3 separate regions of the Homo sapiens genome follow, and all the other regions are reported to be linked to region 2. The links are microRNA targets in miRTarBase. Many come from high-throughput screens and were not tested one by one. Region 2 holds a microRNA gene; each other region holds the end of a gene's coding sequence.
What was found. The annotated mature microRNA hsa-miR-5187-5p reads UGGGAUGAGGGAUUGAAGUGGA and lies in region 2 at 2,454-2,475, shown strand. An mRNA with a match to its seed (bases 2 to 7 or 8) in the 3' UTR can be bound and repressed. Matches are read on the target gene's strand: a 7mer-m8 pairs with bases 2 to 8, a 7mer-A1 pairs with bases 2 to 7 and ends in A, and an 8mer does both.

Region 1 (10,757 bases), not on the chromosome of region 2:
TTCTTTTTAAGGAGTGGCAAGATATGCCTGTTGACGATGTCATTGGTACTTTGAGTGGCTTCTTTACAATCATTGTGGGGATATTCTTGTTGCATGCCTTTAAAGACGTCAGCTTTAGTCTAGCAAGTCTGCCTGTGTCTTTTCGAAAAGACGAGAAAGCAATGAATGGCAATCTCTCTAATATGTATGAAGTTCTTAATAATAATGAAGAAAGCTTAACCTGTGGAATCGAACAACACACTGGTGAAAATGTCTCCCGAAGAAATGGAAATCTGACAGCTTTTTAAGAAAGGTGTAATTAAAGGTTAATCTGTGATTGTTATGAAGTGAATTTGAATATCATCAGAATGTGTCTGAAAAAACATTGTCCTCAAATAATGTTCTTTAAAGGCAATCTTTTTAAAGATTTCACTAATTTGGACCAAGAAATTACTTTTCTTGTATTTAAACAAACAATGGTAGCTCACTAAAATGACCTCAGCACATGACGATTTCTATTAACATTTTATTGTTGTAGAAGTATTTTACATTTTCATCCCTTCTCCAAAAGCCGAATGCACTAATGACAGTTTTAAGTCTATGAAAATGCTTTATTTTTTCATTGGTGATGAAAGTCTGAAATGTGCATTTGTCATCCCCACTCCATCAATCCCTGACCATGTAAGGCTTTTTTATTTTAAAAAAACAGAGTTATCCCAATACATTATCCTGTGATTTACCTTACCTACAAAAGTGGCTCCTGTTTGTTTGATGATGATTGGTTTTATTTTTGAAATATTTATTAAGGGAAAACTAAGTTACTGAATGAAGGAACCTCTTTCTTACAAAACAAAAAAAAGGGCAGAAATCACCCCAAGGAACGATTTCTCAGGTTGAGATGATCACCGTGAATCCGGCTTCCTCTGAGCATTCGATGGCCTTAGCACCTCATCAAGCCAGCACATCCTGCCTGCTGTTGCAGCCTGGCTGGGTTTATTCTTCAGTTACCCTAATCCCATGATGCCTGGAACCTTGATTACCGTTTTACATCAGCTCTTGTACTTTTCAGTATATTTTCATAATGAGTTATATTGTCATTTAGACTTTGAACAGCTCTGGGAAATAGAAGACTAGGGTTGTTTCTTAAATTTAGCTCATGTTATAATAAAAAGTTGAAATGAAGTTCTTATTCTAAAAGTCTGAATGCTTAGAACAAACTTAACATGTTTATAGAATATGGTCTCTTTGTACCAAGTACTTTGCTTAAGAGCTCCTTTGGGCCACTACATATTTTGGTTTCTAGAAAATGTTTGTTTATGAAGAAGTCGATGGAAAACTGCAAACATATGCAGAAAAGGTAGAATAATAAAAAAGGTCTAATGAACTCCATTCAGCTTTGAACCTATCCACTCATAACCATTGACTGGCCTTTAAAAAAAAGTATTGGCAGAATTAATTTCCACCTAGGTGATGGGAAGAAAGTGTTCGCCTGTTCCAGCCTGTGGCTCCTGCCTGGAGGTTACCCAGTGGTGCGCCAGCGCCAAGCCATCACTCCCCGAGGGCCTCCCCTGCCAATGGTGCTGGTATCCCATGCAGCTCACCACTGGCTGCGTGGAAACTCCCTTTTTTCCAACTTTATTATTGGCCTTCTAAGGAGCTGTTTTAGATGTTTTTTCTAACTGCCTCCTCCCATGCCATTTTAATACTACAGATGTACTACGTATCTGTTTATATACTGTACCTACATCTGTGCTTTGTACATAAAAGAACCAGTTTTCTCCCCCTTGAGGACAGAGACTCATTTGAACATGCATAGGTTAATAAATAATAAATTCTTATTTAACATTTTGTAGCACTTGAGATTGTCTTATACCTAAGGTATTACATATTTGGTATATAATTAAGCCTTATAAAACTTGGTAATTGATTAAGTTTTACCATAATTTTTCATCCTATTCTGTAGTTTCTAAGATAAGCACAGCTACCACCTCTAAATCTGCAGCAGAATGCTGGCCCCAGGGTTATTAATTCACATTACCAAAAGCATTTTTAGGGAACTTTTTATAAAGAAAGAATAATTGTTTGTTAGGCTTCATGTCACTTGAGTGAGTTTGGCAGTGTAACAGGATGGTTCGTACACTTACTACTTTTCTGTGCCGTGCATCATATGCTTCTGGACAGTTTCCAAAGGCCTCCGGAAAAGTAGGCGAGGCCTGCTTTTTATGGCAACTTGGCATCCATAGAAAATTTTAAAATTGGTGAAGGTTGCAATACTCCAAATAATGTAAAATGACTGCCAGGCTACAATATAAAGTGAGTTCAGTTAATCATGCTGGACTTGTGTTTATCTGTAGTATTCATCTACAATAAACAGGCATAGCATCTTTTTCCATTCAGTTAGTTAGGATTTTCAGAACCTCATTGCCTTAGTACTTTTTAAAATATGGCTTTAGTTTCTCAAACATGTTCGTGACTCTACTGGTAGTCTAGACCGATTGTTTTTCATTCTGACAGATCATGTGAACCAGCTCCAGCCATGTGAGCCCTGTGGATCGGGGACAGCTGAAGGCTGGACTCGGTGCTCCCGGTCCCTTTGTGCAGCACCCACTGGGCCTGACTGATCTCCTCCCACATTGCTGGCTTCCTCCAGGTCATGGGCACAGGTAACAGAGAGGCACTGAGTAGCCTCTTCATATCCAGATTGGAGCAGCCAACACGGCCGTTTTACACCTCATTTGCCTGCGGAACCCTAAATATAAAGCTAAACCTGTGCTGAGGTGAGCGGTATATGGGATGGTGTCACGGTCCCATCCCACCTCAGCCTTAGAGGTGACCTCCATCCCAGCTGGCCTGGTATGTGAGTTCAGGTTAGAGTTCCTTGCCAAGCCAGGCAGCACAGGGTTAGAGTAAATAAATGAACACAAATAGATCTCATTAGTTTTATTTCTATAACCTTTCGATCTGATGTCACGTTAGATTTTGTCACAACTGGATTTAGTGGAAGCAGGGGAATCAAGTTCACTATTTTCTGAAACACACAAAAAAGGGATGGGAACAATGACTTAGAACTAAGATTGCTCATAAAAGACCATCAGAAAGATCCCTAAACAAAAGCTAAATAGTTACAGTTAATGGTAACTGGCAAGGGATTTAATGCATTTGCTGGTATTAAGTTTCTTATGGAATGAATGAATGAACCCAGCAGCATTTTATGACACAGCTGCCAGAACATCCCATAGAAAAACAATTTTGTAGGAACGTGATGGCAACAATCAGCAGCCAATATTCTCAAGAGTTCCTAATTACCAAAAGCATATACAATTTTAGTCTAGAAAAATAAGTCAATTTTATAAAATTAAGTTTTTAGATCGAAAAGCACCCCCTTTAACAGGTACAGAGATACTGAAAAATAGTCCCTAAAAATCTCACTAAATAGTTTACGGAGAGAAAGGCATGCCATGTTGAGTTACGGAGTGCAGCGCGTGCCCTCAGCTGCTGGCGAGGGACTGGTGGATGGGCGGCTGGAAGCAGCGCACATGCTCCACTGGCGTGCCCTCCCCGTCGCCTGACTTCAGGTACTTATCCAGGATGGTGATGATCTCATCATTGAGAATCTGGAACTTGCGAATTCTCTCCACCATCTTCTTCAAAGGCTACAACCATCAAAGTGAGGATGTTTTACTATTAACACTTCAACATTTATTCTTCATGTTTCAAAATGTCAGGATTCTTATATTTTCTCAGAAAAATAATAGCAAACGGAATTGACACACATACTGTTCTTTTTGGGTTTTTTTTTGTAAGATAGGGTCTCACTCTGACGCCCAGGCTGGAGTGCAGTGGCATGATCACGGCTCACTGTAGCCTCAAGACATCCTCCCACCTCAGCCTCCTGAGTAGCTGGGACCACAGGCGTGTACCACCACACGCAGCTAATTTTTAAATTTAATTTTGTAAAGACAAGGTCTTATTATGCTGTCCAGGATGGTCTTGAACTCCTGAGCTCAAGCAATCCTCCTCTGCCTCAGCCTCCCAAACTGTTGGGATTACAGGTATGAGCCAGCACTCCCAGCCACATACCATCTCTTTAATGCAACAGTTGGAAGGATGAATATATTTTGAATTTAGAATCCCTCTGTTGGCTTCATGCTGCTGTAGATTCATTCATGCGCACAATTGATAGGCCTATTCCTTCCACATTGGCAATTAAGAACCTACTGTCTGCTCAAAGCTGGGGATCTCCAGATGAAGATGATGTGGTCAGTGGAGAAAGGCCAGTCAACTAACACAAGTTTTAGACTTCCAGTTTGGAAATACTGTGACGGGATACTCTGACAGACCCTCCTGCTACCACAGGAATAAAGAACACGAATTAAGAACATACACGCAAACAAAACGCTTTGAAAAGCTGGTTCTACCTATGCAGGTGGTAAGGGGGAAGCCAGGGCCTCCTCAGGGGCAGATGCCAACAGCGGCGGTGGGGTGAGGAGCAGCCCGGGCGTAAGCAAGCGGGACCACACCGAAGACTCCCCAGTGAAGCCAGGACCTCCAATTCGGCTAAAGCGGCCCTGAGTTGGTAGCACCCCATAGAGATGGGCAGATACAAATGCACATCTTGGGGGAAAGCAATCTAAATTAACTCCAGTTAAATAAAGACTCCCAAATAACCCAACACACAAGGAAACAGCAAAGTTTTAAATACCTCCAAGGCCTTCAGATACTAGAAGGAAAACACACAGAATATAGAATACATGAATTGGATAAAGAAATAAGAGATGGAAAAAGTTCAGTTAAGACAATAAAACTGTCAGTTACCAAGAAGATTTGAAGAACCTAATTGAACTTTAAAAAGTGAACTAATAATATTTTCAGAGTAAAAGCTCAGCAGATTAGAGCTGAAGTAAACAAGTTAACTAAGACACATGAATACAGTATCTGGACACAGCTCTGGGAGCCCCGGAAATGGAGGAGTGGGAGGCAGAAGGGCCCCTGAGAGAGGCCCATGACCTGGAGCCTGTGACTGCATTGCCTCCACTCCACGGGGCCTGGGCAGGTGTGGCTAAGACTGGACTGTAGAACAGGGAGAGTATCTGGGGTTGTCCAGTGGGCTCAATATAGTCACAGTCAGGGAATGTTCTCTGGCCGGAGGCAGGAGAGACATGGCAGAAGACTAGAGGCTGAGACTGCCCAACCCACCATTGCTGGAGGGGGCCACTTGGAAAGCATGAGAAGGAAGGGGGACCCAGTCCTACAGCTGCAAGGAATAATTGAGCCAACTGTGCATAAGCTTGAAGGCCTCCAGGGTGAACCCAGCACCTCAGACACTGGCCCCATGAGACTGAGCAGAGGACCCAGCTGGGCCTGGCTGAACTCAGGCATCTGACTTAGAGAATTGTGAGATAATCAGTGGTATTTAAACTGCCAAGCCTGTGGTGATTTGTTGTCATGGAAGCAATAGAAAACTAATACAACAGGGCTGGGCGCGCCTGTAATCCTAGCACTTTGGGAGGTGGGCGGATCACCTTATGTCAGGAGTTCAAGATCAGCCTGGCCAACATGGTGAAACCTAGTCTCTACTAAAAATACAAAATTACAAAATACAAAAATCAGCCGGGCGTGGTGGCAGGTGCCTATAATCCCAGCTACTCGGGAGGCTGAGGCAGGAGAATCACTTGAACCTGGGCAGCAGAGATTGCAGTGAGCCAAGATCGTGGCATTGCACCCCAGCCTGAGCAACAAGAGCGAAACTGTCTCAAAAAAAAAAAAAAAAAGAAAGAAAAAAGAAAACTGATACAACAAAGAGATGTGGAGAATAGAATGAGAAGGTCTAACATATGTTTAACTGAAGTCCTGAATGGCAAGAATAGGGAGAATGGAAAGGAGGCTGAAATATTTCAAAGATAATGGCTGAGTATTTTCCAGAATTCAACTATGAGGGATCCATAAAGCAACAAAGACAAAAGGCCTTTAAAGCAGCCAAGAAAGCACAGACTTCCAGGGGCCCGAAGACTATAGTTGCCAATATTCTGACAATGCAGATCCTGTAAGACTGGAAGTAAATCTAAGTACCTTGAGAAGGAAAACGGAACAATGAGTATTTTCTCTGCCAGACTGCTTTACTGGCCAATTATATTTAGATTCATTTTGGGAACGAAAAGAAAGTTTCTGTTGGTGGCACCTTACGTACTAGGATGAAAAACATTGCCAGAAACAAGAACTTATAACACAAAGAAAGTATGCTTTTGCAAAAGGTCCATAGATGGTGCGAGATTTTCATCCACATACCACATTTTTAATAATCTCATCTTTGCCATCATGTTTCTGGACTTTAAGTAGATGGTAGCAGAAATCCAGCACAGCAAAACGCCGCTGCTGCCCAAGAAGTACGATGATCATACAGCCAGCCCAGTGTAGCCCATCACCAAAGCACTGCCTAGGAACAAGAAGCAGAAACAGAATGGGAGATGAGTGATACGTTATGAAGTCTTTTCTCAGTCTGTCTCCAGATGTCAGTGACCAAGCCATCTGCATTACTGTCTGTGCCTACACAGTCACCTTCCACAGCCAGGAAGAGAATGCCGGGCAGCCAGGTGGCTGTTCCCTGGTTTTGATAAATAACTTTTTTGGGCTCTTCTGGTGTGCTGCTTCCTGTCCCTTTTTAGATCATATCCCCTCTGTGATGAATGACTCTATGGACCTCCCACCTAGAAAAATGCACGCCCAACGTGCATACAATTGCCGTGGGTTCAGAGACTCCCTGAATACTAGAGTCCTGAGTCAGCTCTTTGGCATCAAGTAAGAATCCCCACTACAGGAGGCTTAAAAGCCGCTCAGTGAGTTTCTGGTCCACTTCCTGAGCATGGCTGGCTGCTTGTTAGCCTAACACGCCTCCCCTCCCCCACAGCTCCTCCCCTCCTCTGGGGCTTTGTCCTGCTCTCAGCACACACTTACTCGACTGTGAACTCGTGTGTCCCCACGGGAATGCAGTAGACAAACTGCATGGCACTCCACAGTCTGTGAAACTCCACACACTCGTCCACATGCATGACCCCATTGCTGGGCAGAGGCCCGCGCCAGATGGGGTCATCCAGAAAGCTCCGGATCCGTGTCAGGATGACCTCAAACATGGACAGGCCGCAGCAGAGGCGCTCCTTTGTCAGCAGGTCCCCCTCTCTTGCGATGGCAATTTGCTGCAGAAAGGACAAGCCGTGGAATGCCGTGGGCCTCCAGGCATCCAGCTACTCCACATCCTCTATGTCTCTTTTCTCTTGAGACAGGGTCTTGCTCTGCTGCCTAGGCTGGAGTGCAGTGGCACAATCACAGCTCGCTGCAGCCTTGACTTCCCAGGCTCAAGCGACCAGGTGCATGCCACCACACCCGGATAATTTTTGTATTTTTTGTAGAGATGGGGTTTCGCCATGTTGCCCAGGCTGGTCTCAAACTCCTGTCTTGGCCTCCCAAAGTGCTGGGATGACAGGAATGAACCCCGGTGCCCGGCCCTGGAAAAATGTTTTGGGTGGAGCGGGTCTACTGGCAGCTAGTGTGGAGGCCAGGGATGCTGCTAACCATCCTACGATGCACAGGGCGCCCCAGCCCCCACCATAGAGTTATCTGGTCCAAAATGGCTGAGAAACCCTGACTTAGCATAAGCAGCTGGATCACTGTAGAACTCTACCCTGACACCTTGCCTCCTGGCCTAATTTCTTCTGTTCTTAAACACCTATGGGAAAGCCTTCTTCATGAAGGGCTGGACAGTGAAAGTGATGTCTTCTGTGTAAGCCTTACGTGCCAGGTGATGTGCTAAGCTCTTTCCAGGTGTTAGCTCATCTGAATCCTCCCACCACCCAGGGAAGCAGTCCTGGTGCACACCCCACTTGCAACACTTGAGGCCTGAGCAGCCACGCAGCCGCTGGACTTCACGATGCCTTCCAGTCTGGCTCCCAACCAGGCCACCTGGCCTGGCATGGATGCCCAGCTTGCAACAGCCACAGCCATCACGGTACACGTTACCTGAGGGGTCCCCAGTCTTTCAATCAGTGGGACAAGATGCAGCGGGGCGTACTTTGATTCTAGTCTTTTCATTTTGGCATCAAGTCTCTCCCCCTCTGCAGTAGAAAAAATATTTTACTATATTCTGCTCCTTTGTATGAAACGGTAATTGCAAAGGTTTACATTTGTTTAAAAAACAAAAGATTTTTAAGTTAACATTATGGATACAGATTCTCTTTGAAAATTATTTTACAGAACTGGCTCATTTAATATTTTAATTCAAACCGGCAGAACCAATTTTCTGCTCAATATTCACTTTTCATTTATTGAATATTCCAAATGTAATCGAAAGCAGAAAATGGCACAATGAGCCTGTACCCATCATCTGCTATAATTATCAACTCATGGCCACTCTGCTTCTTATATACCCAACTCCCCCTGCTCCCATGCTATTGATATTTGGAAGCAATTCTAAGACATCATATCATTGCAGCTCTATTTCTCAATCTTCATTTAACTAGGTTCTGTACACTCCTCATTACCCCTGGGTATGACTGAACAGGCGCCAAACCCACAATCTGCACTGGTCCTTAGCTCTCCGGTTGCATACAGTGGGCACCACCCCCACAGAGGGCAGTCTGGACTCCCTGGTGGGGGTCAGCAGGCTCACCTTTCACATGGACTCGCGGCAAGATGTTCTGGAAAGGAGCCGCGTGCAGCAGGTCACACACTTCTTCTAAAGACTAGAGCAGAGAAAGAGAGGGTCAAGCTAGGAAGGGTATCTCGCCAGAGAGCAATCTGGTGCTGAAAACCAAGAACTTCTTTGCCTTTTAGCATAAAATAAACTCTGTAAGTTTATTTTATCTCTGTCAAGAGATTTCTGGGATGATGGAAATGCTTCCGTCTGTCCTGTCCATTCCGGCAGCCGCCAGCCATGCATGCCTAGTAAGTACTTGGAATGTGGCTTGGCACTTGAGGAACTGAATTTTATTTTTAGTTACATTTAATTAATGTAAATATAGACACAGGTAAGACCCAGTGTTGAATGTGTGCTCTGTTTTCCAGGATTTACCTGTCTAAAAGCTCTCGCCCCATCCTTCCCTGCTAATTTGCCACCAGGCTCTTAAGAACCACAGTTTATGACAAGATCCCACCACACTGACAGAAGGAAGGGGCGTCTCCTGCAAACAACACAGGAGATGGAAGGAGTAGGGGTGGCCTACCCTGGTGTCCACATCCACTCATTCCCTACAGAGCCCAAAACAAAGTTCTAGGCCATCATGCCGAACTGCTCTTGGGTCACAAGCTCCTTTACAGAGGTAATAAAAACCACACAAGGTCCGTTCTCCAGAATAACATATATATATATAAAGAAAATGTACCTCCAGGATCATGAGGACAGCAGAACACCCCAAATCCACCAAGAACCCAAAGATGGTCAAAAATTGAGCAACTGCTGTTCATCTTTAGAGGTGAGGGCTCTTAGGCCACCAGGAAGGGCCTCTTCAGACCACAGTGCGCTCACCACCCCCACGGAGCAGGCAGAAGGTGATGGAGCCTTCAGTGCCTCCGACCCCACAGCCATGCTGAAATCTTAAAGTCCCATAGGAGTAAAAGAAATGATTAAACAAAGAAACAGCTATCAGAAAATCAAGAAATACCGACAATGAGATTTTAACTTCTGAGGACCTCCCAGAGATGATGGCAAAACTAAGACCAAGAGGAAGAAAGGCAGACTTTTCCGTACTCATCAACGTCAATCCAGTGCCAGACGCCGGCCAGACACCATCTGCTCCGCTTCTCTTTCCCTGTTTCTAATGCAGCATCACACTCCATCCAGAAGCCAACAGAGGGCCAACTGTTGCCATGACAATGCACAGAAACCGTGCCTTTAAGCTAAGAGATTATCCTAGTAAATTCCATTCTGCCTGCTTCAAACTCTTGTGGTTCTATAATTATTTATGTCCATGAGTCCTGGGATGGACATAAATAATTATAGAACCACAAGAGTTTGTTTATGTGAAGAATGTCAGGCCAGGTGCAGTGGCTCACGCCTGTAATCCCAGCACTTTGGGAGGGCGAGGCGGGAGGTCGGGAGTTCAAGACCAGCCTGACCAACATGGAGAAACCCCATCTCTACTAAAAACACAAAATTAGCCGGGTGTGGTGGCACATGCCTGTAATCCCAGCTACTCGGGAGACTGAGGCAGGAGAATCACTTGAACCCAGGAGGTAGAAGTTGTGGTGAGTCAAGATTGTGCCACTGCACTCCAGCCTGGGCAACAAGCGTGAAACTCCAGTCTAAAAAAAAAAAGAAATGATGTAAAGAAAAGCTTTTGACACTTTATCTTATTTCCAAAAAGGGCAGCTGGACAGAAGAGAAACCAGCCCTAAGGGGTCTCTGACACTATCTCTATCAATTCCACAAGGCTGTCTCCCCATTAAGAAAGCTCGGGTCTCACCTCCCTGACCTGAGGCCAATGACCAGACAGGCATCCTCAGGCTTGGACATACACAGAGGCTATGGTTTGGATGTGGTTTGTCCCTGCCAAAACTCATGGTGAAATTTAATTGCCAATGTAGCAGTGTTGGAAGGTGGTCCGAGAGGTGATGGATTTCTTACAGGGCTGGGTCAGTTCTCCCACAATTGGGTTAGTTTTTGTGGGAATGGATAAGCTCCTGCGAGAGCAGGTTGTTGTAAGCAAGGCTGCCTCTCATGTTTGTTCTCTTGGCAACACCCGCTTCCCCTTCTCTGTTCCCCCAGAGCTGAAGCAGCATGAGACCCTGAC
Region 2 (5,617 bases):
CTTGTTGCTCAGGCTGGAGCGTAATGGCATGATCTCGGCTCACTGCAACCTCCACCTCCCGGGTTCAAGGATTCTCCTGCCTCAGCATCCCAAGTAGCTGGGATTACAGACATGCGCCACCACGCCCGGGTAATTTTGTACTTTTAGTAGAGACGGGGTTTCCCCATGTTGGTCAGGCTGGTCTTGAACTCCCGACCTCAGGTGATCTGCCCGCCTCGGCCTCCCAAAGTGCTAGGATTACAGGCATCAGCCACCGCCCCTGGCCTATATATGCAAGTTTGTTACACACGTAAACTTGTGTCATGGGGATTTGTTGTACAGATTATTTCATCACCCAGGTATTAAGCCTAATATCCATTAGTTATTTTTCCTGATCTTCTCCCTCCTCCCACCCTTCACCCTCCAAGACCAAGAACTCTTACTCCATTTTCAATTATTCCCCTGTGGAGCGCTTAGTGCTTGAGGTCAGCCCTTTGGCTTGTCCCTGGTCCTGGGATGGAGTGCCTTTGGGGGCCAGGCTCCATATTCCTAGATTTTATTTGCCAACTCTGCCTTGGGACTCAGGGAAGGAAGGGTTAAATACAGAAAGCAGCTGTTTCAGCGAATAGTTCTGCTAGAACTTACTCCTCTGCGCCAAACTCTCACACCCGTTTCCATTCCACCAAGTGGTCAAGAGCGGGGACTTCGAGAGATGTAGACCTCCAGAAGAGAAGGGTGGGTCCCTGTTCTAGGGAGTGCTGCGCTTAATGAGTAGTACTCATTTGGAGGTGTGCTGTGGAGGGCTGTGAGGAGGATTTCCCATGGGTTCTTTGGAGAGAAGGGAGCGATAGAAATGAACCAGGGTTCCAAAGAAGTCTTCATAATCGTTCTTTCTGCCACCCTTCACACTATGCCAGTCTACAAGCTGTAGTTCCACTTTTCTCATGGATGAAACTACATGGGTGGAAGGAGCTTCAGTGGCCCAAGCTACAAGATGCTCCCTCTAGTGTCTTGTACGCTCACAAGTTTTTTTCCGACCTTGGAGAGGCCTAGTGATCTAAAGCCTTCCACTTAAGTCTAAGGGGCCACCAATCAAGTCCTGCCCGCCTCTGCAGCTCCAGGGTTGAAGCTCTTGGGCCGTCAGACCTGCCACTCATTTTCTTCCTCCCTTCCCATTGGCCCATGGTAAATAGCGAGGCTTTTTTTTTTTTTTTTTTTTTTCATTGATTGGGCGGGGCCCAATCAGGGTTGGGTTGGGTCTTTGACAGCTTTCTTTGCCAGATTCAAAGATGGCGCTTACGGCCACGCTAAGAATGCAGCGTGAAGCTGCAGTTCTGCCATCACTCAAGATGGCTGCCCCCATCAAGATGACCGGGGTGTGCCGGGGGGAAAGGGGCAGCATGATGGTCTGAGATGGTAAGGGATACTGCACCATTGCGGGCCTGGTCTTGGGGCCTGGGAATGAAGAATAGAGAGGCTAGGGAGCTAGGTGAAGTCTGTGGTGGGGGCTAGGATCAGAGAAAGGGAGAGAGGACAAGGGTGACAAGTGGGGGTGAGAGATCAAAGATGGGGCGGGAGTGTGCCTAGGGTTGTCTCTCCATGAGTGCTCTCCTTCCCTACTCTTCCTGTTCCAGGTGTAGCGTCGGACCATGTGGAAGTTTCTGAGGCTGGGGAGCCGGATAATGGGGGGTGGGGCCCGTTGGGGGGTAAAGGGGCAATAGCGTCCTTTCACAGGCTAACCTCGGCTCTTCCCAGTCCTCTGGACTAAAATGGGGAACACATTGGGCCTGGCACCAATGGGGACTTTGCCCCGCCGGAGCCCCCGCCGAGAGGAACCCCTGCCCAACCCTGGGAGCTTCGATGAGCTGCACCGTCTATGCAAAGGTGAGAACTTGGCACTTGGGTGTCTCAGGATGAAGGGGCAGAGGAGTGGAGGGTCTTGAATGCCGGATGTCCGGCGATGGGAGCAGGAAAGGGGAGATCATAGCTGGGTCATGCAGCCTCAGGGAGGATCAGGTGCCCAAATGAAGTGGAGCATTTCATTGCAGGACTTGAAAGGAGGTTAATTCCTCCAAAGTGTTCCCTATGGGATTGAAAGGGGAGACTATCTTTTGGGGTAGGGGTTCTTTGTCTGTGCTTATTCCTTCCCTTCCCCTACCCCCTTCAGATGTATTCCCAGCACAGATGGAGGGAGTGAAGCTCGTTGTCAACAAGGTTCTGAGCAGCCATTTCCAGGTGCTCCCACTTCTCTGGCCCCTCCTTACTATTCCCCCTTTCCTGTCCCTGGATCATCTTCTCCTTTCCTTTGTACTCCAGCCCTAGCCAGTCTATGTGGGACAAATGAGGGAGGATGTGGGGTTCTCTTTACCTCCGTGCCTGTGGGACTTGTTGCTTTTAATCCGATGACCTTCTCTGTATATGTTGGAATATTTAGGATTCTTGAGAGGCCCTCTGGATGGGGAAAAGACTAAGGGTGGGATGAGGGATTGAAGTGGAGCAGGAATGCGCTTTTCTCCACTGAATCCTCTTTTCCTCAGGTGGCGCACACTATACACATGAGTGCCCTGGGCTTGCCGGGATATCACCTCCATGCGGCCTATGCAGGGGATTGGCAGCTCAGTCCCACTGAGGTGAGGGCTCCACACACCTGGGTCATCTCCCTAAAAACCAATCTGGGACCCAGGTCTGGAGGAAGAGGAATTGTGTGTGTTATGGGGAGGAATGGGCCGTAACCTGATTCTCTGTGTCTTTTCTGAATGAGAGAGGGTAGAGAAACATTTTCTGTGAAGAGCCCAGAGTGTGTCTTTGTGACTCCACCAGGGGGCGCTGTGCACTCTTAATGAAGTTCTATATTTGGGTTTAGGCTGAGTGGTGCCATCCGGCTCAGCCTTACTACTGTGTACACCCTTCCACAGGTGTTCCCCACTGTGGTAGGGGATATGGACAGCAGTGGCAGCCTGAACGCCCAGGTCTTGCTCCTCTTGGCAGAGCGGCTCCGAGCTAAGGCTGTCTTCCAGGTGACCACAGTTCCTGCCTCCATCCCCTGAGGCACTTCCTCTTTCTCCTCCACGGGTTTCCTGCTCTGAGGGCTTGGAAGGAGGAGCAGAGTCTATAATGATCATAAAGAGGGAGGGAGATTTTACTTCTTGCTCTTGCCACCCAGACGCAGCAGGCCAAGTTCCTGACATGGCAGTTTGATGGCGAGTATCGGGGAGATGACTACACAGCCACTCTGACCCTAGGAAATCCTGACCTGATTGGGGAGTCGGGTGAGGAACTGGGACAGGGTTCTTTTTATCTTGGCGGCCCATTTGCTAATGTTACTATGCCTCTTCATCTTCTGTACAGTTTGGAGTTTAGAAAAGGAACTTCTTGGGCAGGCTGGGGTGGCGGTTATTGGGAGTGAGGGAGCAGGTCTGGATATTGTCTCTATGACTGACTCCATGTCTCCCCATTCCCCCACAGTGATCATGGTTGCTCACTTCCTGCAGAGCCTCACTCATCGGCTGGTGCTGGGAGGAGAGCTAGTTTATCACCGGCGGCCAGGCGAAGAGGGGGCCATCTTGACACTGGCTGGGAAGTACTCGGGTATGGGGCGAAGTGAAGTAGTGGTGGTGGTGGGGGGCAATTCTGGACTTTTCTGGGGTTCCTGGCCTGTGTCATACTACAGTTAACACTCCTTCCCCTCTGTACTTTGGATTTTACAGCTGTACACTGGGTAGCTACATTGAATGTGGGATCAGGCGGGGCCCATGCAAGTTACTACCACAGGGCAAATGAACAGGTGAGACCTCTGATCTCATTCCCTCCTTGTCAGCAAGTCAGTCATGAACTTCTGTTCATCTGGACCTCTATCGCCCTGCTGACCTATTTTTCTTCCTACCACGCTGTGTATATATTTACATGCATGCCTCCATTCTGCTGATTCCCCATCAGGACCCTTCTGGTCTTCACTGATACTGATCTCTCTCTCATCCTTGCCCATGGTTCTCAGGTTCAGGTTGGAGTGGAGTTTGAGGCAAACACAAGGCTACAAGACACAACATTCTCCTTTGGTTACCACCTGACTCTGCCCCAGGCCAACATGGTATTTAGAGGTGAGGGTTATTGGGAGACATTTGGCTATCCTGAGGAATGGGGGATGCAGAGGAGGGAGGGAAGCTCGACCTTACTTCTGGTGACTATTTCCTCCAATCCCTGTTAAATAATCTAGTGGGTATTCTCTCCCCCAACAGGCTTGGTGGATAGTAACTGGTGTGTAGGTGCTGTGCTGGAGAAGAAGATGCCCCCTCTGCCTGTCACCCTAGCCCTTGGAGCCTTCCTCAATCACTGGCGCAACAGATTCCATTGTGGCTTCAGCATCACTGTGGGCTGAGGTTGTCCAGAGCCAGCCCCCACAGCAGCTGGAACCTCTGAGTCAGGTGCCCTAGGGCCAAAGACTAGGCCCCTCTTCAGAGCCCACCTTGCTGGGTGATCTCTAGGACCCAGGAGCAGAGTGGTGGACAGGACCATGCCCTCCTCAGAACTGGAGCTGCCACAGGGGCAGTTGATGAGGCAGAGGTTTGAGGATCCCCCCTCTGCTACCAGCCCCAGTATCACCTTCCCCATGCTCTTGTGGCTGTGGACTAAGGGAGAAGGATTAAGGGGTATGGCTGAATTCCCCCGGCACCCCTTGCCCTCAGGCTTCCTTCTTCCTTTCCCTTTGGTTAATCCTGCATGGGATTAGCTGACCATCCTGTTTTCCATCCCAGAGCCTCCCAAGGCTGGGAAAGTAGGGCTGAAGGGCTAGATGTTTGGTCTCAGGAAGTGGGGCCCACCCATTCCCAGAAGGAGCTTCTTTACCTCTTAGCCCTGAGGTTTCCTCCTTCCCATCTTCTGTGCTTCCAGAGAACAACTTTGTTCCTATGGTCACCCCCACTATCCCCATGACCGCATGAAGAGGCAGTTATTGCTTTAGTCTTTCATTGCAACCACTGGGCTCCCTTTGAACCCGGCCCAATCTTTGGTCCCAGCATTTTCCCACTCCAGTGTATCCAGGGTGTTCCAGGTGAGCTGGGGAAGGAAGTGAGCATGGCCTCAGCTGCAGATCTCCTGGAGCAGCGGCATCATGGCAGACAGGCCCTGGATGTGCTGGATTTGGTACCCGTAGGCCTCATTAATGCTCCGGAGCTCAGCCAGCAGGCCTAGCAACTTCGCATACAGAAACCTTTGGAGGAAGTAGTGGGGTTGCCAGGAAAACAGGAGGGAAATAAGGCAGTTGGGAGTCTTGTCTCTAGGCCCTGATCCCCTGAACTATTCCTCAGTGAAGCCAGGTCTGAACATTAGAGAAAATCATGCTCTGGTATGACAGACTATCAGAGGTTCCAAAGGTCCTCCAGGGGGCCTCGGTCTGACACTGTCTTCTCTCACCATGCTCAGTTTTTTCTGAACCCAGAGCTCTGAGAGCCGAGTGTGAAGAAAGCTCCAGACTTGGCCAGAACTCCAACCATGTGGAATCTGAGGGCCTGGCCTTCTAGAGCAGGTTCTAGAAGGTGGATGTGTTCTATGGTATAAAGCATCCCCTTTCTGGCCAAACTAGCTCTTGGAGGAACGAGCAAAACAGAAGCGGTGCATACCTCAGAGCCTGGATAAATCACAG
Region 3 (10,158 bases), not on the chromosome of region 2:
TAAGTCTTTCATAGTATTGCATAGTTTATGGAAGGTATATATTTAATCTGTCTTACAGACTGATTTGAAAGTGAAATTACTTCAGGGTAAAATTACTTGCTTGATTTGCCAGATATATCTTTGACTTTATGTATTCTTGGTTATCCTTTGCCACTTGTTCTTTGGCCGTGTGTGTGTGTGTGTGTCTTCAGCCAGCCTTCACTGTGTAGTTTTGATTCAGAATATGTCTACTGTTACCCTGTCTTCAATTACAGGAGAGGAAGAAGACGAAAAGATGACAAAAGTCCACGTTTACCCAAAAGGAGGTGAGGAATTTTTACCCCTACTGTTTTACACCTTATTCCAGTACCAGGCACTTTACTCACAAATTTAGACTTCATGATAATCCTGCAGGAATGGCTATTTAAAAATTTCACAAAAGCAACTTCACTAATGTCCTAGATGCACAGGTGTTATGATCTTATTTTCATTGTAAGAGCTTGAAATTTCTAACAATCTTAATACTTTACCTTTGGGGGGTCATTAGTTTATTTGTGTTACTTTTTAATTCTGTCAAATATTTGCTAATTCTTGGTTACTTCTAATACAAATTCTGTGTAATCTGTATAGTAGTAAAGAGATTTTAATTCTTCCTACTATAAAATAGCTATTCCCAATAGCACAGTTTAAGTCAGAGGCCACTGTGCAGAGTACCACTTTTTTTTTTTTGCTAACTTTTCTTCTGCATTTTGATAATAGAAAAAAGCCTCCAATCCAGTATGTCCGTTGTGAGATGGAAGGATGTGGAACTGTCCTTGCCCATCCTCGCTATTTGCAGGTCAGTGAAGTTGTTATATAAGAGCCTTTCAGGTTGTGTTCCATTACTTGTTCTTGCACCACGAGACTTTAATTTGTTGGCTTGTGTAGGCTTTATCATTGACATGTAATGTCAAGAAAAGTCTTTCTTTAAACATAAAATGACTTTAACCCATTTATGCCTAGTGTTCCATTATTAGAATGCTAAGCTTGGGCAAGTTATTTATATCCTACTGTTCAAGGTCATCACCAAGGTCTGATTTTTCACAAAAATACATTTGCAACCTCCAGCATAAATGGGTTAATCATGATTAGTCCATTTGTGCTGCTATAATAGAGTACCTGAGACTGGGTAATTTACAAAGAACATATATTTATTTATTAGCTTGTGGTTCTGGAGACTGGAAAGTCCAAAAGCATGGTGCCCACATCTCACAAGAGCCTTTTAACTGTGTCAGCCCATGGTGGAAGGGCAAGAATGGGTTGAACTTGCTTTTGTAACAAATCTACTCCAATGATAATATCAACCCATTTATATAAGGGTAGAGCCTTTAAGACCTAAGCACCTCCCATTAGGTCCCGCCTTCCAACACTATCACATTGGGGATTAAGTTTCCAACACATGAACTGTGGTGAACACATCCAAATTCATAGCACCTCCTGTTTAAAAAGAGGTGACTAAGAATCTGAACCCACATAGAGAACTTTCGTTGGAATCTTTCAATATTACAGTAATTCCCAATGTGGTGTAAATACAGAGTAACATTTTATTTTAAAGTGATTTAGAAAAAAAGTAAAATTAGAACTCAAACCTGTGATTTCTTGGGTACTGTGTAGAATGAATAAAAGACTTTTAGTTGAGGTTTTGTTTTTATTTTTCTTGAGTAGATTATTATTATTATTTTTGATGAGTAAACGTACCACTTATATTTAGGTCTGGCAGGAAACGTGAAAGTGAAATACTGCTTAGGAAATACCTGTTTGATCTTCAGCAACAAATATAACATGACACGAAGGCCTTCTTCTGGATCGTGGTTCAGTTATAACAATAGCCGCTCCTCCTCTGCTGTGTGCCATTTGCTGCTCTAAAGCACAGTACAATACATAATCTCTTATCCCCATAACAACACTTTGAGATGGTTATTGTTACCTCCATTTTACAAATGAGAACTGGAGCTTGAAATATTTGTCTCCTAAGATTACAAAGGCTAGTGAATGACAGACCCAGATTGGAAACCAGGTCTGTGTATTTCCACCTATGTTCTTAGCCACTTTATTATACTCCCTCACTATCCATGTGTGAAATCTAAGTATTTGGTTTTCCTTCAGTACTTTTGACTTAGCAAAGACAAGTACTTTCAGGAAGCCTTAATTTTTTTTTTTTCGCCCCTTTCACTTTCTCTGTTTTAGCACCACATTAAATACCAGCATTTGCTGAAGAAGAAATATGTATGTCCCCATCCCTCCTGTGGACGACTCTTCAGGCTTCAGAAGCAACTTCTGCGACATGCCAAACATCATACAGGTACTTTTAAAATGTGTTTATCAAGTAGGTAATTGCACTGTGCTTTAGTTTTGCATGTTGGTAATGATAACGTTTTTCTAACATAAGTCTTAAAAGATTCTATAGTCAAGTGCGGGGAAAAGGTGTGAAAATAAAATGTAGTAAGACAAATTTTACAAGGGATGGGCAGACTAGGACTTTTGAATTTTTATCCTTTGACTTCTTGAACTTCTATGACCGGGATAATGATCTTCTATTGAGCATTTATTCTGTATCAACTGTGGACTAAATACGTTATGTATATTATTGCTAATTAGTCTATTCAACACCACTAAATTTGTTTATATTGATCTTATTTTACAGCTAAGAAACTAGAAGCTTGGCAGGATTAAGTAACCTGCCCATGGTCACATAGCTAGTTTTTAGGAGAAGCATAATACTCTGCTGCTATTGAAACTGTGAAGTCTAGCTGTTGAATTTGCATGTAAACTCCCATAGGAACTGTCAAAAAGAGTTGCTGAGTGTCTGCAATATGTATTATAGAATAGACTCAAATTCAATTTATTTGTAACCACTGACCATCTCAGTGCAGTGTACCTAATAGGAACAAATTGGGTGCATACCACTGAGTATGTCCCAGACACTTGATAATTACACATTACCTTCTCAACAGTCTTAGAGAGTAAGTCTAGGAATTCTAGTTGTAGAAATATGTCTCCTGCCCAAGGTCATACTGATAAATGAAATAACTCCTTCATTTACTGTAGGAAAGTTACTTAACTTCTCTTTTCACTTTTCCTTCTCTGTGTATTAAGGATACCAATATCAGTTATTGTAGGGATGAAATGAGATAACATAAAATGCTATTGACTACACAGAGCCTGGCACAATACCAGGATTGAACTTGAATCTTAATCACTCCAAAGTCTACAGTTTTCTTATACCATGTTTCTTCAGAGTTATTTCCACAAGTAACAGTTATTTCTGTTTCTTGATAGGTACTGCAATTTCTCTGTTCCTTCTGCTCCCTGTTAATACTGTTTTATGCCATAGAAAAGTTGTTTCTGACAGCCACTTTAGATTGTTTTAGTTAAATATCAAAAGCGTATGAAAAACTTTTATAAATTCAGTCCATTTCAAATATTTATATTTGGTTAATACAATTTATGATGTTTTACTTTTGCAAATTAGTATATACAGACTTTTTTTTGCAAATGTCATTTATTTAGCAAATAGATGCCCCACACAGGTTTGTCCTGCTATGGAACTGGAAATGTGGACATGACCTGGGAGATGCTAAGAGTTTCCTAAGTTAGAACTGTGCGTTTTTAGACCTTGCTATATAAAGTATGGAATACAGACCAACCAGCATTGACATCATTTGGGTTCTTATTAGAGATACAGAATCTCAGGCCCTGCTTCAGACCTGCTGAATCAGCATATACATTTAATAAGCTATCCAGGTGATCTCTAAGCTGTTTGGAAAGGAGTATAAGATTAAATTGGATATTGTTCACCTTTTAACTTAAATTCATGTTTTCATTCTCATTAATTCTGGTAATTTGAAGCAAAAGGAGTAGAAAATGTAGTGGTCATTAATTCAACAAATATATATAGAGAGCATCTCTTTGTGCACGGGCTTCCCAAACACGGTAAAGAAATGAATAAGTACAATGCTCCTTTTTCCTCCTCATAGATTCCACACCGTGTTACCACATTCATCAGAAATCCTGCATAATGGGGTTGAGGGTGTTGTGAGTGACAAAGGGAGGTAGTTGAAAGGTGCAGAAGATGGGTAGGAGAATAAGGTAAAGTAGTACAGGTGTTATTTACATATATTTGATAGCAGCAACTCCAGTCTTTTGAGAAAAGTTTATCTTGAGTAACATTTTTTAAACCTGAAACAGGGTATGATTACCTTTAGATCAGTTTTCTTCTATACAGTGCCAAGTTCTTGTTTTTTGTTTTTGTTTTGTTTGAATGCCAGATTCTTTCTGTGTAATCATTCAGTTTTCATTGTCTGTGAAAAAAATTGTTTACTCCTTAAAGGAGTAAAATATATGGAAAATATAGTTGTTTACTTGCTAACCACTTGGTATCCAAGACCTGGATTAGTGGTAAAATTGAGATTAGGATTCCATTTCTTATATTTTTATCTAGTTTTTCTGTTTGTTTTTGTTTTTTTTTAAACAGGTCCTTATGCTACTGAATGTTGGATTTTTTTTAAAGCAATACTTTTCTTTTTTAAATTTTGTTTACCCAAAGTGTTTATACATTGAAAACAGCATTGCTTTTACTCTAAATTGCCTGCCCCATCATCTGCTTACTTACTGTAAGGGAAAATATTTACAGGGTATCTAAATAGAACACTAACCACAGTATTTTCTTCATAGATCAAAGGGATTATATCTGTGAATATTGTGCTCGGGCCTTCAAGAGTTCCCACAATCTGGCAGTGCACCGGATGATTCACACTGGCGAGAAGCCATTACAGTGAGTATTATTTACTGGTGAACATCTGGGTGAGAAGGATATATGCCCTACTTGAAGGTTTGCCGCTTTACAAACATATTAGTTGCCACTGCTGTTTACTTTCATCAAATAAATGAGTGGATATTGATTGGGGGCATTAGTTAGTAGCCTTTTTCTTAGTTTCCCTCTGTTTTTCAGGCAAACAGAAGAAGATCAGATTAGTTTTCCATCTAGTAACATTTCCCAATCCTTCAAAAGAAGTATGTTACTGATTATTGTGTGTGTGTGTGTGTGTGTGTGTGTGTATGTATATATATGCTCTAAACTCTAACCCTGATCCTGAATAAGAGCACTCTTTATTTCTCTGTTGGATCAGCCATTTCCTTTTCTCCTCTCCTTAGATGTGAGATCTGTGGATTTACTTGTCGACAAAAGGCATCTCTTAATTGGCACATGAAGAAACATGATGCAGACTCCTTCTACCAGTTTTCTTGCAATATCTGTGGCAAAAAATTTGAGAAGAAGGACAGCGTAGTGGCACACAAGGCAAAAAGCCACCCTGAGGTGCTGATTGCAGAAGCTCTGGCTGCCAATGCAGGCGCCCTCATCACCAGCACAGATATCTTGGGCACTAACCCAGAGTCCCTGACGCAGCCTTCAGATGGTCAGGGTCTTCCTCTTCTTCCTGAGCCCTTGGGAAACTCAACCTCTGGAGAGTGCCTACTGTTAGAAGCTGAAGGGATGTCAAAGTCATACTGCAGTGGGACGGAACGGGTGAGCCTGATGGCTGATGGGAAGATCTTTGTGGGAAGCGGCAGCAGTGGAGGCACTGAAGGGCTGGTTATGAACTCAGATATACTCGGTGCTACCACAGAGGTTCTGATTGAAGATTCAGACTCTGCCGGACCTTAGTGGACAGGAAGACTTGGGGCATGGGACAGCTCAGACTTTGTATTTAAAAGTTAAAAAGGACAAAAAAAAAATCTAAAGCATTTAAAATCTAGTGAAATAACTGAAGGGCCTGCTCTTTCCATTGTGGATCACAGCACACACATACATACACCCTCCACCTCCCCATCCCCTGTTCTCCCTCTGTTGCTCCCCTTATAAAATTGATGTTGTCTTTACCAGAAAGGTAGACAAAAAAGAAGCAGCAGCAGCTCTTAAAGTGAGGGTTATTCTCATACTCGGTTCCAGCCATCAGCAGACTTCCTGCTCATCGGCAGATCCCCCTTTCCAACCTGTAACTCTGATGTGCTCTGGATCAGCTTTTAACTTTTAATCATATATTACTGTCTTCTAAATCCCTTCTCCTCCTCTACTGCTGCCCTATGGTTCTGGCTCCTACCCCCTGCGGCACACTTATCTTCAAATACCATAGAATTCTAATCTCTGGAGGCTGGCAGCTTGACTTGGCACTTTAGGGCCCCTTAGCAGGGTGAGCTGTTAAAACAGCACACATCTCTCATCCCCTCTTCCTTTATTCCCCCCTGGGTTTCAGAAAGGAAGGATATATGGGGACCACCTCCCCCTTCTTTGATCCCAGCATCTCAGTCCCCCTCCCAACCCTCCATATGGCTCTCAATGGTGCTCACTTGCTTGGAAGCAGGCTCCCAATAGGGAGGGGGCTGCCCTCTACAGTCTCTTTGACTGTAAGACAGGGCTCTGTATCAGTGAGACGATGAGAAAAGTCCCAGGCTAATGGCAGAAATTTGCACTTTGAACATGTGTGTTTTTGTGTTGTGGAACCTGAGATTCCTTATTTATTAACAGGAAGTCTGATTTTTTTTTTTTGGAGTCTTTGTTGCTATATTTTGTGGGGCTGGGAGAGAGAGATTAGATTATTTTGACATGGGATCCCTTCCATAACAGGTACTTTGAAGGCAAGACATAGGGTTGAAGAAGCACAGCCAGCCTCTGAAATCATAGCTCTCCAGTGGCTTTTAAAGAAAGCTGGTCCTCAGCACTAACAAAATCACTACAATAGCCTAGTGCTTTTTTGGAAGCCTTTTTAGGGAAGAATGTTAGGTTCATGGTAACTAGTATGCTCTTTGAGATTTTTACAGTGTTGAAACTTAAGAATTTTGAGAGGGTGAGGAGGGTTGTTCAGAATCTAAATTACAGATAGATGATTGTTTCTTGTGAATTTGTTTCTTTTCCTTTTTTTTTGTCCCTACCATTTCCTTACATTTCCCTTGGGGCCCATCTCTGGCTCCTTGCTTTTTGTTTCTTGCTTTGCTTTATCAGTTCATTCCAGCTCCCTGTTAGTGAAGGACACTGCTGTTAGTGAAGGAACAAAGTCTATGAGTCCTAAAATTTTAAGTCAAAGAAAACTGCTCTGTTTCCCCTTTAGTAACACTTCTGAAGAGGAAAAACTTCAATAGCCAAAGTTAATAATCCTATATAATAATTGCTTTGGCTTTCACCTAAAATTCTGGGCATCACAATTTCCTTGGGATAGAGGTTGTGTTGGGGAATAGATTGCTTATTGCTGTTCACTGGAGAGAAAAGGTAGTGTTTTTGTACAAGGTCATACCGCCAGAAGCCCCAAATCCTATTTTGGCTCATCTTCAGGTAAAGAGTAATTCCTATCCTGTGTGCCTCAGAAGCTAGAATCGAAGGCTTACCCTATTCATTGTTTATTGTCAGAAATGCATGATGGCTCTTGGAAAGAATGACGTTTTGCTGGAAAAAAAAAAAAGAACAGTTTGTGTTTCACAAACATGGCTTATCAATTTTTTCAAAGAATTCTTTTTTCCCAAAAAGAGGAGTAACAAAATGTCATTTCTGAAAGAGGCTTACTTTATACCAACTAGTGTCAGCATTTGGGATGCCAGGGAACAGAGAGTGAGACACCTACAATCACCAGTCTCAAATGCGCTATTGTTTCTTTTCAGAGTGTTGCAGATTTGCCATTTCTCCATAATATGGGGATAGAAAATGGAATAAAGATAGAAGGGATGTAGAATATGCTTTCCTGCCAACATGGTTTGGAGTCGACTTTGGTATATTGACTAGATTTGAAAATACAAGATTGATTAGATGAATCTACAAAAAAGTTGTCCTCCTCTCAGGTCCCTTTTACACTTTTTGACTAACTAGCATCTATATTCCACACTTAGCTTTTTTGTCACACTTATCCTTTGTCTCCGTAAATTTCATTTGCAGTGGTTAGTCATCAGATATTTTAGCCACCTACACAAAAGCAAACTGCATTTTTAAAAATCTTTCTGAGATGGGAGAAAATGTATTCTCCTTTCCTATACCGCTCTCCCAACAAAAAAACAACTAGTTAGTTCTACTAATTAGAAACTTGCTGTACTTTTTCTTTTCTTTTAGGGGTCAAGGACCCTCTTTATAGCTACCATTTGCCTACAATAAATTATTGCAGCAGTTTGCAATACTAAAATATTTTTTATAGACTTTATATTTTTCCTTTTGATAAAGGGATGCTGCATAGTAGAGTTGGTGTAATTAAACTATCTCAGCCGTTTCCCTGCTTTCCCTTCTGCTCCATATGCCTCATTGTCCTTCCAGGGAGCTCTTTTAATCTTAAAGTTCTACATTTCATGCTCTTAGTCAAATTCTGTTACCTTTTTAATAACTCTTCCCACTGCATATTTCCATCTTGAATTGGTGGTTCTAAATTCTGAAACTGTAGTTGAGATACAGCTATTTAATATTTCTGGGAGATGTGCATCCCTCTTCTTTGTGGTTGCCCAAGGTTGTTTTGCGTAACTGAGACTCCTTGATATGCTTCAGAGAATTTAGGCAAACACTGGCCATGGCCGTGGGAGTACTGGGAGTAAAATAAAAATATCGAGGTATAGACTAGCATCCACATAGAGCACTTGAACCTCCTTTGTACCTGTTTGGGGAAAAAGTATAATGAGTGTACTACCAATCTAACTAAGATTATTATAGTCTGGTTGTTTGAAATACCATTTTTTTCTCCTTTTGTGTTTTTCCCACTTTCCAATGTACTCAAGAAAATTGAACAAATGTAATGGATCAATTTAAAATATTTTATTTCTTAAAAGCCTTTTTTGCCTGTTGTAATGTGCAGGACCCTTCTCCTTTCATGGGAGAGACAGGTAGTTACCTGAATATAGGTTGAAAAGGTTATGTAAAAAGAAATTATAATAAAAGGGATACTTTGCTTTTCAAATCTTTGTTTTCTCTTATTCTAGGTAAGGCATATTAAAAATAAATATGTAAAGAAGAAAAATAAAAGTTGTCTTCATGGAAGCAACTTGTCTTCCTTGGTTGTACTGAGTTACAGTTATCCTAGGGGTGAAACATGTGATGCTGCTAAGCAAACCAAATGCCCTCAGAACAGGTGTTATGTGGGGCATACTATTGTTTGCTTTTGTTGAGAATCAGGTGGTTAATTTTTGACTGTTCTTGATTTCTAATGCTGAAATGACATGATTCTGTTATTCAGCAAACTTGGAAATCTTGATGTTTTGACAACTGCCTCCTAGGAAAACTGGCCATATGTTAATTAACCTAGTAGATGGAAAATTAAGGATTATGTGAGGTTAATTTTACCCTGATAATGACAAAACCTTGATAGCATTTAATATTAATACTTCTTCTCAAAATTGAATGTTTATATCAAGTACTGATTTTTATTTTAAAAAAGAAAAAACTATAATCCTTCTGCCTTCCAAAAGCCATGCTGTGATAGCTGCCCAGGCTGCTCTGTTACATCTCCCATTTATTGTTTACTTTTATAAATTTGCTTCTAAGATGGTATGTGTTTCAGCTTATTGGCAATATCTATGATATAAATAATGAAAGCTAATTATTTCATTTAGCCCTTACCCAATAAGCATCATTTTCTAAGTTAAATGCAATAGAATGACAACCCTCCAAGTACCTTTTAACTTTTATACTGTCATTTCAAAGCCCAGCTCATTCTCTTATTTTAAGAAGCATGTGGTATGACTGGGTAGGGGAGAAAAAAGGAAAGCATGTTGTCACTTGAGTGAGACTGCTTTAGAAATGTTACCAAGTTAGCGTTGGGTGTTTCCTGTTCTTTGGAAGAGAACAGGCCTAAACAGTACCTTCCTCCTCCTATGTAGCTACCAGGAAGGCACCGTGATTGAAATTAGAGATGCTTCCTTGCTTGATTTTTAAGTATAAATTAAATTACCTTTAAAAAGTACGTAAGGTTAGGAGTGAAAAAAATCCTGTTTTTAAAGGACTTCACACACCCTTTGTTTCTTGAACAAGATGTGAACTACCTAAACAGAAAATGAAATTGGAAAGTCAGTGGGAGAGACAACTATAGAATCAGACTTCTATTTAAATTCAAGCCTCGTTACTTGATTTTGTGCATGTTATTTCTTGAAGTTTCAGTTTCTTATATGGAGAAATAACAT

Region 1: miRTarBase lists NIPA2 as a target of hsa-miR-5187-5p. Seed matches in the 3' UTR shown: 7mer-m8 at 533-539 and 7mer-m8 at 632-638.
Region 3: the mRNA of ZFP91 is a reported target of hsa-miR-5187-5p. Seed matches in the 3' UTR shown: 7mer-m8 at 6,237-6,243.

The regions. Positions count from the first base shown.
Region 1 is chr15:22,866,561-22,877,317 of GRCh38, forward strand. It overlaps NIPA2 (NIPA magnesium transporter 2), which reads left to right. Exons shown (of 8, transcript NM_030922.7): 8 at 1-1,824. The coding sequence ends at 287. CYFIP1 (cytoplasmic FMR1 interacting protein 1) reads right to left here. Exons shown (of 31, transcript NM_014608.6): 27 at 8,639-8,711; 28 at 7,990-8,084; 29 at 6,931-7,169; 30 at 6,265-6,412; 31 at 492-3,632. The coding sequence ends at 3,468. Among named protein-coding and RNA genes, the nearest start is that of NIPA2, 33 kb to the left of the region's middle. RefSeq lists enhancers at 6,684-7,359, 6,685-6,979.
Region 2 is chr1:161,224,742-161,230,358 of GRCh38, forward strand. MIR5187 (microRNA 5187) reads left to right here and starts at 2,445; the gene lies at 2,445-2,520. TOMM40L (translocase of outer mitochondrial membrane 40 like) reads left to right here and starts at 1,319. Exons shown (of 10, transcript NM_032174.6): 1 at 1,319-1,395; 2 at 1,614-1,863; 3 at 2,147-2,214; 4 at 2,517-2,609; 5 at 2,895-2,996; 6 at 3,143-3,248; 7 at 3,445-3,567; 8 at 3,687-3,763; 9 at 3,974-4,076; 10 at 4,215-5,617. The coding sequence starts at 1,749. The coding sequence ends at 4,354. NR1I3 (nuclear receptor subfamily 1 group I member 3) reads right to left here. Exons shown (of 9, transcript NM_005122.5): 9 at 4,928-5,185. The coding sequence ends at 5,056. RefSeq lists enhancers at 725-834, 1,295-1,364, 2,879-3,058.
Region 3 is chr11:58,612,024-58,622,181 of GRCh38, forward strand. ZFP91 (ZFP91 zinc finger protein, atypical E3 ubiquitin ligase) reads left to right here. Exons shown (of 11, transcript NM_053023.5): 7 at 255-305; 8 at 739-817; 9 at 2,206-2,320; 10 at 4,693-4,792; 11 at 5,173-9,527. The coding sequence ends at 5,683. It overlaps ZFP91-CNTF (ZFP91-CNTF readthrough (NMD candidate)), which reads left to right. Exons shown (of 13, transcript NR_024091.1): 7 at 255-305; 8 at 739-817; 9 at 2,206-2,320; 10 at 4,693-4,792; 11 at 5,173-5,545. Among named protein-coding and RNA genes, the nearest start is that of CNTF, 5.6 kb to the right of the region's middle.